Homo sapiens: one gene and its partners. Changing the gene in region 2 together with the main gene of any one other region gives a genetic interaction. Each region holds a gene or a part of one and is shown on either strand. Other genes may lie near its edges. The genes, in order: AURKA, PNISR and MED23.

Region 1 (3,656 bases), on a different chromosome or scaffold from region 2:
GGTCCTCATGAAGGCATTTAGAGCTGAGGCACTGGGTGATATGGATCCCTGGTGAAGGTGTAGATGGAGAAGTGGAGGGTCCAGGGACTCGTTCTTGAGTCACCCCAGACCCTTGATCTGGCAAAAATGAGACTGACCCAGCAAGGAGGGAAAGACAGGACGACTAGGTGGTAGATAAACCTGGAAGTGAAGTGAAGAAAAAAGTGTAAGATGTGATCAACCTTGTCAGATTCTGCTGAGGATGCAAGTACGGGGAAGGTGGAATTGACCCTTGGGTTTGGCAGCAGTAGGTGTCAGCCATGAGCCTGACAATGTGGTGGAGACAAAAAAGCCAGGTGGGGATGGGCTCAGGGGAGGGGAGAGGAGCAGTAGAGGTGGCAAGTGTGGACGGTTCTTCTGGAGCTTTGCTGTTGGAGAGGAGGGGGTCATTGTTAGCAACGATAATAGAATAAAGAGGACTTTTATTTTATTTTATTGTTTTGAGACGAAGTCTCGCTCTTTTCCCATAGGCTGGAGTGCAATGGTGTGATCTCAGCTCACTGCAACCTCTGCTTCCTGGGTTTAAGTGATTCTCCTGCCTCAGCCTCCCGAGTAGCTGGGATTACAGGTGACTGCCACCACGCTCAGCTAAGTTTTGTATTTTTAGTAGAGACGGGGTTTCACCATGTTGGCCAGGCTGGTCTCGAACTCTTGACCTCAGGTGATCCGCCCACCTCGGCCTCCCAAAATGCTGGGATTACAGGTGTAAGCCACCATGCCCGGCCTAAAGAGGACTTTTTTAAGGTAGCAGGTATGCCAGTAGGCTGCACAGGGATGGAAGTGATCCATTAGAGGAGAGATGATGGAGCAGCAAGACCATCAGGAGTGAAGACTCCGTGACAGAGGATGGGACGCAGTGCCCAAGGGGAGGTTGGCCTTGCAGGGAAAGCACATGCCTGTCCCTCCCTCATTAGCTTCATTTGGACAAAACATGTAAAATCCGGTGTGTTGTGGAGGCCTTTTGATTGGGGAACTGTAACGCTGCCTATCGAGCAACAGCACTTTAAGCAGGTGGCTTTGTTCAAATTAAAGGTTCTTCTTTTTCTTTTCAGGCATCATGGACCGATCTAAAGAAAACTGCATTTCAGGACCTGTTAAGGTAAATTGAATAATCTGTAATCTCATTCACATTTATAAACCCACATGGAGGTTGGTCTTGTCGGGAATTCTTTCCGCCTTTACTTTGGATTTAAATTTAGATCCCTTACTGTGATCCTGGATATGAATTAGTCACTTTTCTCGTGTTCAGTAACATTTTGCTGCTTCTTAGAGTAGCTTTTTTGTTCTGCTTTGTCTTATAATCGGCTGCTTAAGTTTCTATATCCCTCCACTGTATGCAGGATAATAGTAATAATGCATCTGGCAGGAGTTCAAAACTTTTAAAATTGGCCATAAATATAAAATAATTAGAAAAAGGCTACCTTGAATTACTGTATTTGATTCTAAGTTCCTATGATAACGGCCATTTAAAAAATTGCTCTATATTTAAAATGTTTCTTTTTATTTGTCTTTGTCTGAATGCCTGCTGCGTTGTGGACAGTGTGCTAATTTCAGGAGTAACTGACTTTGTATTTGGAAGTCTTAACACCCTCTCTTTGTAGAGCACTCATACCGTTGAGCTGGGGATGGACTTTGAGGCTTTCATTTCTAGCACTTGTCCCTCACTTACAATGAGCTGTTGAAGCTGAAGGAAATCTCATCCCTCCTACCCCTTTTAGTTTGATTAGCTGAGGGTGTTAGAGTTAACTTAACAATTTAAGGTTGTAATACAGTACTTACAGGCGTATAAATAATACATTTCAAGGCTGGGCGCGGTGGCTCACGCCTGTAATCCCAGCACTTTGGGAGACCAAGGAGAGTGGATCACAAGGTCAGGAGTTCAAGACCGGCCTGGCCAAGATGGTGAAACCCTGTTTCTACTAAAAATACAAAAAATTAGCCAGGCGTGGTGGCAGGCGCCTGTCGTCCCAGCTGCTTGGGAGGCTGAGGCAGAGAATTGCTTGAACCTGGGAGGCAGAGGTTGCAGTGAGCCGAGATCATGCCACTGCACTCCAGTCTGGGTGACAGAGCAAGACTCCATCTCAAAAATAATAATAATAATACATTTTAGTAGTAACTTTGTGAAGTGTCTACATTTGTTTCCTCTTTGTCAGTTTTTTGCTCAATTCCATTTTGTCAATACTTGGAAAATGAAACATTGGTTAATCAATAGTACAGTAATAAGCTTATTGTGGAAAATCTTCGATATATGAAAACTTAGACTCTTCTAAAACTTCATGAAGATAATACCACTGTTGAACGTTTTGACGTATTTTTTTTTGGTCTTTTTCTTAAACGTATATTATCAAAGAAATTTCAATGGAACTGAGATTTTGGCATAAAGTTTTTGTATCATAGCTTTTTGCCAAATAGCAATGTAGTGTCTATTTCCAAATTATTGAGAAATTTTAGAAAGTGTCTCCTTCATTAATGGATATTTGTTAATAAAGCATGATTTTTAGGGGTGAGGAATTGGAGGGGATAGAAGGTATCATTCAGGTATTCTTAGCCACATACTAACTATCCTCTGGAGGTACTGATTAAAATACCTTTTCACCTTCCATCTCTTATCAGTGACATTCATTATTTTGCTATACTAGAGAACAAACTTTGTGAAATTCTCAATATATTCATCTTTTGCTTTCATGAATGCCAGAAAGTTTATTTTCTCTTCCATTCTAGGCTACAGCTCCAGTTGGAGGTCCAAAACGTGTTCTCGTGACTCAGCAATTTCCTTGTCAGAATCCATTACCTGTAAATAGTGGCCAGGCTCAGCGGGTCTTGTGTCCTTCAAATTCTTCCCAGCGCATTCCTTTGCAAGCACAAAAGCTTGTCTCCAGTCACAAGCCGGTTCAGAATCAGAAGCAGAAGCAATTGCAGGCAACCAGTGTACCTCATCCTGTCTCCAGGCCACTGAATAACACCCAAAAGAGCAAGCAGCCCCTGCCATCGGCACCTGGTAAACTAGCTTTTGAGACTCATTGGATAGTCCTTCTTTGTCGTCGTTGCTAAAAAAGCCAGTGTATATACTTGCACTTATTGTTTGGAGCCTTAGCTTTTATATCTGTTGAGGATGGGGAGAAAATATGGTGTCTGGGTTGAAGTAACAGTGTCTGCCCATGGGCCAGACCTATGCTAAAAATACAGACCTGATTCTCACCCTCTTGGAAGAGTTGGGCACCCAGGGAGGACACAGCATAAATTGGTGTCCTTTTGATTGCTTGTTACTGAGTCTGGATGTAGGGTGCTTGCAGTAAGTGACTTGAAGGGACTGAGATCTAAAGTGTGGGGGAAATCCAGAGAAGTGGGTGAACTGAGGCAGGCTGCGGTGAGGTCACCATGGGCATTGCTGGCCATGTTAAGGAATGGGGCCTCATCTCTAGGGCATTTGGAAGCTACTGAAGCTTTTTTGAACTCAGAAGGGAACTCTGCCTTTTAGAAAGTTTACTGTGGAAGGCCAGGCGCAGTGGCTCACGCCTGTAATCCCAGCGCTTTGGGAGACCGAGGCAGGTGGATCACCTGAGGTCAGGAGTTGGAGACCAGTCTGACCAACATGGAGAAACCCTGTCTCTACTAAA
Region 2 (3,656 bases):
TTGTGAACGTTGTTGTTCCATTCTTTCTTTCTCCAATTTCTTCTGCTTTTCACGTTCCATTTTTTCAAGACCTTCGCGAATCCAAGCGGGAAGAGTCCTGCGTTTTACTGCGTCTGTTTCACGTGGGAAAAATATACGCAAGTCAGTTAAGTAAAATATTTCTACAAACTTGTGAGTAAATTTAAAAAATATCCCATTAAATATCATGCCTTTCTTCAATGCCATCACTTTTAGTAACAGCAGGGACCACTGCTCTAGTGCTTACAATCTGCCAGGACACAATGAAAGCATGTTAAACCATCATCTAATTTAATCCTTACAAAAGCCCTCAGAGATCACTACTATTACTCCACTTTTTTCCACAGGTGAGGAAACTGAGACTCGAAAAAATTAAGTGATTTGCTAGTAAGTTAAAAAAGGAGTAAAGTTAGAATCTTCCTAAAATGTAAAAAGTAAAGATTTATTAACAAATGCTCCTGTCCATTAAATACTGAACAATTTAGAACTTTCCAGATATAAAGTGGCATAAATATGTATTTGTCACTTGAAATAGGCTGGCTCTATAATGTTATTTAAAAAATTGAAATTTTCTGCCAAAATACTTAAGGGAAGTGAAATAACCAGAGGAAAATTAATCTGACAGCAGTGCATCAGATGAACTAAGAGTGGACAGAGATTGAACAATTAGATTTAAAAGGAGAAGGGCTCATATATCTGTATAATGTACTGAAATGCCTACACTGAAGAAAATACCAACATGCTATGGCTAGCATAAATTTTCACTTCATCACAAAATCTGGAATTTAATGTAAAGGTTTAAATAAAATTATTTAAACCTTTTAATTTCAGACCAGTATCATTTTTGTAATTTTAAGCTTTATGACCATAAAAAATAAAGTGTCAATTCCTAACACATCAGAGATACTCAAACAATTTTAAGAAAACAAGACATCCTTTTTATATGATAAAAAAGTCATGCCAATTGTGGTCCACTAAACTAAGTTAAATAGCTACCAATTTGTGGAGGCTCCTGCTTCACAGGAAGTGCAATAGGTGAACGCTGACGATCCCTGAATGATGATGGCCTTTCTCTTCGATTCTGGGGAGGTGCTGGAGGTCCTGGAGGTCCTGGTTGCCAATAAGGAGGATGAAATCCACCTTGCGGTGGACCAAAAGCAGCCCCATGCTGAAAGAGTATTGCAGTTTATTTTTTCTTCAAATTAATACAATATACTCTCTGGGACACACGTGTGTTATGAACTGGGACAGTAGAAATCCATGTGTGCAGCACATCCAAGAATTCCATGGCTCTAATATCCACCGATACTTCTATGGTCCCAAGAACCTAGGCTTACTTGTCTTAAGATTTTCCGGCTATGTAAATGCAAAGAGGCTTCTAAAAGCCAGCTGATAAGCTACTTTCAAGAAGTATATGAAATTTTTCATTCTGAATCCATTTACAAGCTAATCCTACCAACACTAAGACATCAAATAGATACTAATTTCTCTTTAACTAGACATTTTTGTCAATTTCAACATCCTACTTACAGTGAACAAAAAGTGAACTAAACAACTTAAGCTGTTTCTATAATCTTGCAGATATATTCATTTATAAGCAAAGATAGAAGTTAATGAATCATTAAATATTTTCTGCAATTTTGCTATTTTCAGAGGCTTTTCTAGGCCAGCTGCCAATACAGCTCTTTGTCTTGTTTACATGGGATCTACCATGCAAAAGTAGGGTAAGCAGATGCTCCCTGCCATTATATTTCTTCAAACAACATAAAAACTGTTGTATCTGTATACCAAGTATACAAGTATCTGAATATTTATTAATGAGAGGATTACCATCTCAAGGTGAATACTAGATGTCCATTATCAAATCTACCCTAGAATTCATGAAATAATTCTTTCAAAATTTTAAATTATGATAGCAGTTTATAAGTTAATAATTGCAATCAGTTATTTCAAAATGACACCTAGCACTATAATTTAAGGGTAGACCCTGGCAGAGGGAATGAAGTAAATAAAGCCCAACATACAACACTATTCCCCACAGAGTTCTATGTCCCTAGGAATGAATTGGATGCTACAGAGGAAATTATATACAATTCCATTAACATGTCATGTCAGAATGGAAAAAAAATGACACTAGAAAAACAGTCATAATTCTACATAGCACAAGGAATTACACTTAGGAAAATGATCTATATTTTTTATTCATGTCTTAACCATGAGCTATATTCAATTACTGTGCATTCTCTAGTCTTTAACATTTAAATATACCATTTTGAAATATAAATTAGAAAATAAAACATCATATAGCTATTGCACTTATACATTTTTAATTTTTTCAAAAGTTTTCCGTAATGATCTTTTATACCATTTTCCTAATGAAATAAAAAAATCAGAAAACAAATTCTAATTATTTTAATACTCAAAAATTGATAACTGAGACAGAATGTGCTTATTTATACAAGTCTGAAAAGTGAAACACGTATCTTAGGTATTCTTGATGAGACACTTCCAAAGAATGGATTACGTGCACATCTACAATATTAAAGCAACAAAATATCTTTCACCTGATAGTCAAACTGGTTCACTGGCCCCACTGCAAAATTATCGGGTGGTCCACCAAAGTTGTGATTGTTCTGGTTAAATATATGCCTGTTGTCAGGGGCAAATTCCCCACTGTCCTGACTGTTGCTGTCTTCAGAAGGAGGAACAATGTCCATTGGGCCTGGTGTTGGTGGCATCCATGGCTGATCTGGAGGGGGGTGTGGGGGTTGCTGATGCATTCCCCATTCTATTTAAGATTTAGGCATAAAAACATTCAACAGGCGGTTATAACAAAATCAACACAGAATTTTAAGATCTCAAGAAAGATTTTTCAGTAAACATACAGATTTAAAAAACAACTTATGACTTCTTGGTCAAATTCCTTTTGTTTATCTTAAAAATAAGCAATGAACTAAACTGTCATATATAATTCAAAATGAGCTAACTCCACTCTAATTCATATCCTAACCAAATGCCCAAAGTTATTTTTAACAAATGTAACAAAATCCAAAGCACTATTTTTGTTGAATTTTTATATTTGTTTAGTAACAACACCACAAAAATAATACCTTGAGGTTTTATATAATTTCTTTCTTACACGAACACATTTATCCTCACAACATCCCTGTGAGGTAGGGAGAAATTAGGTATTATTTTTGCCAATTTCGGGAGGGAAAATCGAGGCACACAGAGGTAAATCACTTGCCCAGGGTCACAAAGTAGAGTAAAACTAAGGGGTAGGGATGCCCGCGGGAGTCATTTAAGAACTTAAACTTAGGAACTAAAACATTTTCAAATGTGGGGAAATTTCACTTTCAAGAAAGCTAGAAATGAACCACCTCACAGTATCAAAGACTAGAATATTTATGTTTTTAAAAGTAATCTGAATTCTCGTTTTTTTTGTTTGTTTGTTTTAAATGAGGGACTCATTCTGTCACCCAGGCTGGAGTGCAGTGGCGTGATCACAGCTCATTGCAGTCTCAATCCCCTAGGCTCAAGCAATCCTCCCACCTCAGCCTCCCAAGTAGCTGGGACTACAGGCATGCGCCTCTATGCCTGACTAAGTTTTAAGGTTTTTTTTTTTTTTTTTTTTGTAG
Region 3 (3,656 bases), about 32 Mb from region 2:
CTTCTACCAAAAAAAAATCACTTCTATTTTAAAAGATGCTAGTTCCCTTATATTTCAAAAGGACATTTTAAATTTTAATTCATGGTTTTAAATTATGAAAACAATGAAATAGAAATTAAAATAGCTTAAACATTACAAGACCTTAGCATATGGACCACTTAAAAGATCTTTGTACTTTGTAACTAGTATCGCAAGAATTGTTACGTTGGTCTGTTGCACTCCTGTTTAAGTGTGCCAATATTTAAAGCATGTGCAAGGTTATTTACTAACCATGAACAATCCATTCCATTGTTTATTAATCTTTATTTTTAGATATTTTTTACATATAAATGTATTCTTTGCTACAGTTGAAACCCAATAAATCCATTAAATAATATCTCTATATTTTATTTTAATTGACAAGTAGCAATTGTCTGTGTGTGTGTATATATATTATATATACTTATTTTTTTATAATGATAACACTTAAAATCTACTCTCTTAGCAATTTTGAAGTATACACTATATCGTTATTAACCATAGTCACCATAATGTCCAGTAGGTCTCTTGAACTTATTCCTCTTGTCAAAGTGAAATTTTGTCCTTTGACCAACATCTCTCCAGAAAGTAACATCTCTACTTTTTAATGTCTTTTTTGTTGTCATTGTCATTGTAGTGTTTAAAACGCTCACATGGGCCAGATGCAGTGGCGCATGTCTGTAATCCCAGTGCTTTGGGAGGCCAAGGCGGGAGGCTCATTTAAGCCCATTGTTAGAGACCAGCCAGGACATCCTGGGGAGACCCTGTCTTTACAAAAAATTAAAAAGTTAGCCGGGCCTGCTGGCATACACCTATAGTCCCAGCTACTCTGGAGGCTGAGGTGGGAACACCACTGGAGCCCCAGAGGTTGAAGATGTAGTGAGCCATGATTACGCCACTGCACTCCAAGCCTGGGCAACAGAGCAAGACCCTGTCTCAAAAAAAAAAAAAAATAATGATAATAAATAAAATAAAGGGCTTATATGTGGGACTAGTCAAGAATGATGTGGCCTTTTTGTTTTTCTTAGGTTATAGCATATATCTTGGAAAGAAATGCCTGCTTATTACCAGCCTATTTTGCAGTCACTGAGATCAGGAAACTGTATCCTGAAGGCAAACTTCCACACTGGGTAAATTTTATATTTCCTGAATTTTTAATAAAAATTTTCGGCTGGGCTTCGTGGCTCACAGCACTTTGGGAGGCAAAGGTGGGAAGATGATTTGAGGACAAGAGTTCAAGACCCAACCTGGGTAACATAACAAGACTCTGTCTCTGCAAAACATTAAAAAACACACGCACACATATTAGCCAGGCATAGTAGCACATGCCTATAGCCCCAGCTACTCAGGAGCTGAGGTGGGAGGATTACTTGAAACCAGGAGTTTGAGGCTGCAGTGAGCTGTGATCACACCACTGTACTCTAGCTTCGGCAAAAGGACGAGACCCTGTCTCACACACAAAAAAGGGTATTTTATAAAAAACAGTTATATTAATCTTATTTTTGTGTGCTTATTTTTTTAATGATGACTTTTATCCTTAGATAATATGTATATTTTTAATCATGATGTATTTCTTTCATTTCCATTTCCATTGAGAATTTATATGCCATGTAATAAAATATGATCAGCTTCATCAAATAGCTAAGGATATGGTGGTGTGACTTGGTTTAATTAAGGGACAGATGAACTGGCGAGTGATTTTTTAGAAGGAAGCAAAAGGGAGCTAACCTTTAAACAGTTATCATGTGCAATCTTTACATATATTATCTCATTTTATATAAATGTTCATATATTTCAGGGGCAGTCTCAATTTTCCTTTTGTACGTATTTATTTGACTTCCCTCTTTCTTTCTCTCTTTAGTTACTTGGAAACCTAGTATCAGACTTTGTGGATACCTTCAGGCCCACAGCAAGGATAAACTCCATTTGTGGTAGGATTATAATTTTAAATATGCCAAATAGTACCTGATTTTTAGTAATCTAATTATTGAACAAAGCTGAGGGATGTTCTCTTAATATGTGCCTTGGTGGCTTGTCATTTTGGTGACTCTCTAAGAGCTTAATATAATGCCTTTCCCTTGTTTTCACTTACTCTGTGTGCCAAGTACAGGGAGGAAAAAGAAACTCTCTGGAATGGGTTTAAGCTTCATTTAAAACCATTCTAGAAGTGGGTTTCTTGGTGATTAGAAAGACATTTTAATACAGCTAGTAAAGCACCATGGAATTTCTAGGCAGCTGGAAGTCTGAACAGACCTGTCCCTCTGTGGCTACAGAACGTGAAAGTGTCAGGCTCACTCAGCCCATTCTAATTCCCACTTTTGCTTTTCCTTTCGCATTTTCCCATGTTTTGTTAGAGTCTCTGAACTTTCTTTTAAAAATAACCATGTGATTTGGCAATTTTTGCAGTGCCCACATATCCTCTTTAATTATTTCTAGAAATCATGGTGACCTCAACTGTGTGGAAATATAGACCATTGTTTATTCAGTGATCAAATATTGAGTACTTCCTATAAGCCAGGTGCTATTCTAGATACTGAAAATACAAATACAATCTAAATAGACACTAGACAGATAATTATCAGGTTTCTAGCTTTTGTAACTGAGTGGATATTGATATCATGTAGTGAATTATGGAAGCAAAGTAGGTTGGAGAAGGATGATGAATTTGAGACATGTTAAGCTTGAGGTGCTTGTAGGACATCCAAGTGACGATATTTGTTAGGCAGTTGGATGTATGAGCTGATAGTCATATGTGACATCTAAGGCCTCTAGGAATATCGTGCATAAAGTTTAATCATGTTGACACTGGACTAGTGGTCTTAAACTTTTTCCTGTAAAGGGCCATGTAGTAAATATTTTAAGCTTCGTAGGCTACAGAATCTGTTGCAGCTACTCAGCTCTGCCATTGGACTGCAAAAGCAGTGGTGTTCCAATAAAACTTTACAAAAACAGGTGCCAGGCTGGATTTGGCCCATGGATTATAGTTGGCTGATCTCTGCCCTAGACATTTAGACAAAATGCGATATTTTCAACTTTGGAAAGCCTGTGCAAATTGATCTTCAACTATCTGAACTAAAAATAAAATTCCCAACCTTCAGTCTCATTGAAACATTTTTATAAGCCATTTTTAAACCAAACCAATGCCTATTTCAGCATATATGTTCATTAAATATTTGTGAAGTGAATGAAGTACTGCTGTGTTCACATTTACTTAAAAACATTTTTGTAATACATACAGGTCGCTGTAGTCTTCTGCCAGTTGTAAATAATTCGGGTGCCATTTGTAATTCATGGAAACTGGATCCTGCTACTCTTCGTTTTCCTTTGAAAGGCCTTTTGCCATATGATAAGGTATGTTGCTAAATATAATGGCACTTTTAGTCCATCTGACAGTCTTCAACCTAGATTATAAGATATGTGATGCTAAATTGTTGCTTCATAATCTGAAGAAGTAAATATTTAATGAAAGATAGTTTATAGTTTATCATGTTATTCTAGTATCTAAATATACCCTGTGGTTTATGCTATTGTGGGTGTTTATGCTCCAGTGGTCCACCTCTGGCAAAGTATTTGGAGGTGAGAAACTGAAATTTTAAATGGCAAACTGAAATTTTAAATTGATTCCTTGATTAAGTCCT

Evidence for each region.
Region 1: changes in PNISR (region 2) and AURKA together harm fitness more than expected from each alone (negative genetic interaction), as found in Homo sapiens cells (one large-scale study listed by BioGRID).
Region 3: changes in PNISR (region 2) and MED23 together harm fitness more than expected from each alone (negative genetic interaction), as found in Homo sapiens cells (one large-scale study listed by BioGRID).

The regions. Positions count from the first base shown.
Region 1 is NC_000020.11:56,385,638-56,389,293, reverse strand, and holds part of AURKA (aurora kinase A), read left to right. Parts: intron 1-509; exon of another isoform or gene 510-885; coding exon of another isoform or gene 886-982; intron 983-1,091; coding exon of another isoform or gene 1,092-1,096; coding exon 1,097-1,138; intron 1,139-2,760; coding exon 2,761-3,037; intron 3,038-3,656. UniProt on the Homo sapiens protein: Mitotic serine/threonine kinase that contributes to the regulation of cell cycle progression.
Region 2 is NC_000006.12:99,408,159-99,411,814, forward strand, and holds part of PNISR (arginine/serine-rich protein PNISR), read right to left. Parts: exon of another isoform or gene 2,807-3,656; coding exon 2,583-2,806; coding exon of another isoform or gene 2,559-2,582; exon of another isoform or gene 1,188-2,558; intron 1,187-1,187; coding exon 1,015-1,186; intron 114-1,014; coding exon 1-113.
Region 3 is NC_000006.12:131,618,120-131,621,775, reverse strand, and holds part of MED23 (mediator of RNA polymerase II transcription subunit 23), read left to right. Parts: intron 1-1,046; coding exon 1,047-1,148; intron 1,149-1,879; coding exon 1,880-1,949; intron 1,950-3,256; coding exon 3,257-3,369; intron 3,370-3,656. UniProt on the Homo sapiens protein: Required for transcriptional activation subsequent to the assembly of the pre-initiation complex. Component of the Mediator complex, a coactivator involved in the regulated transcription of nearly all RNA polymerase II-dependent genes.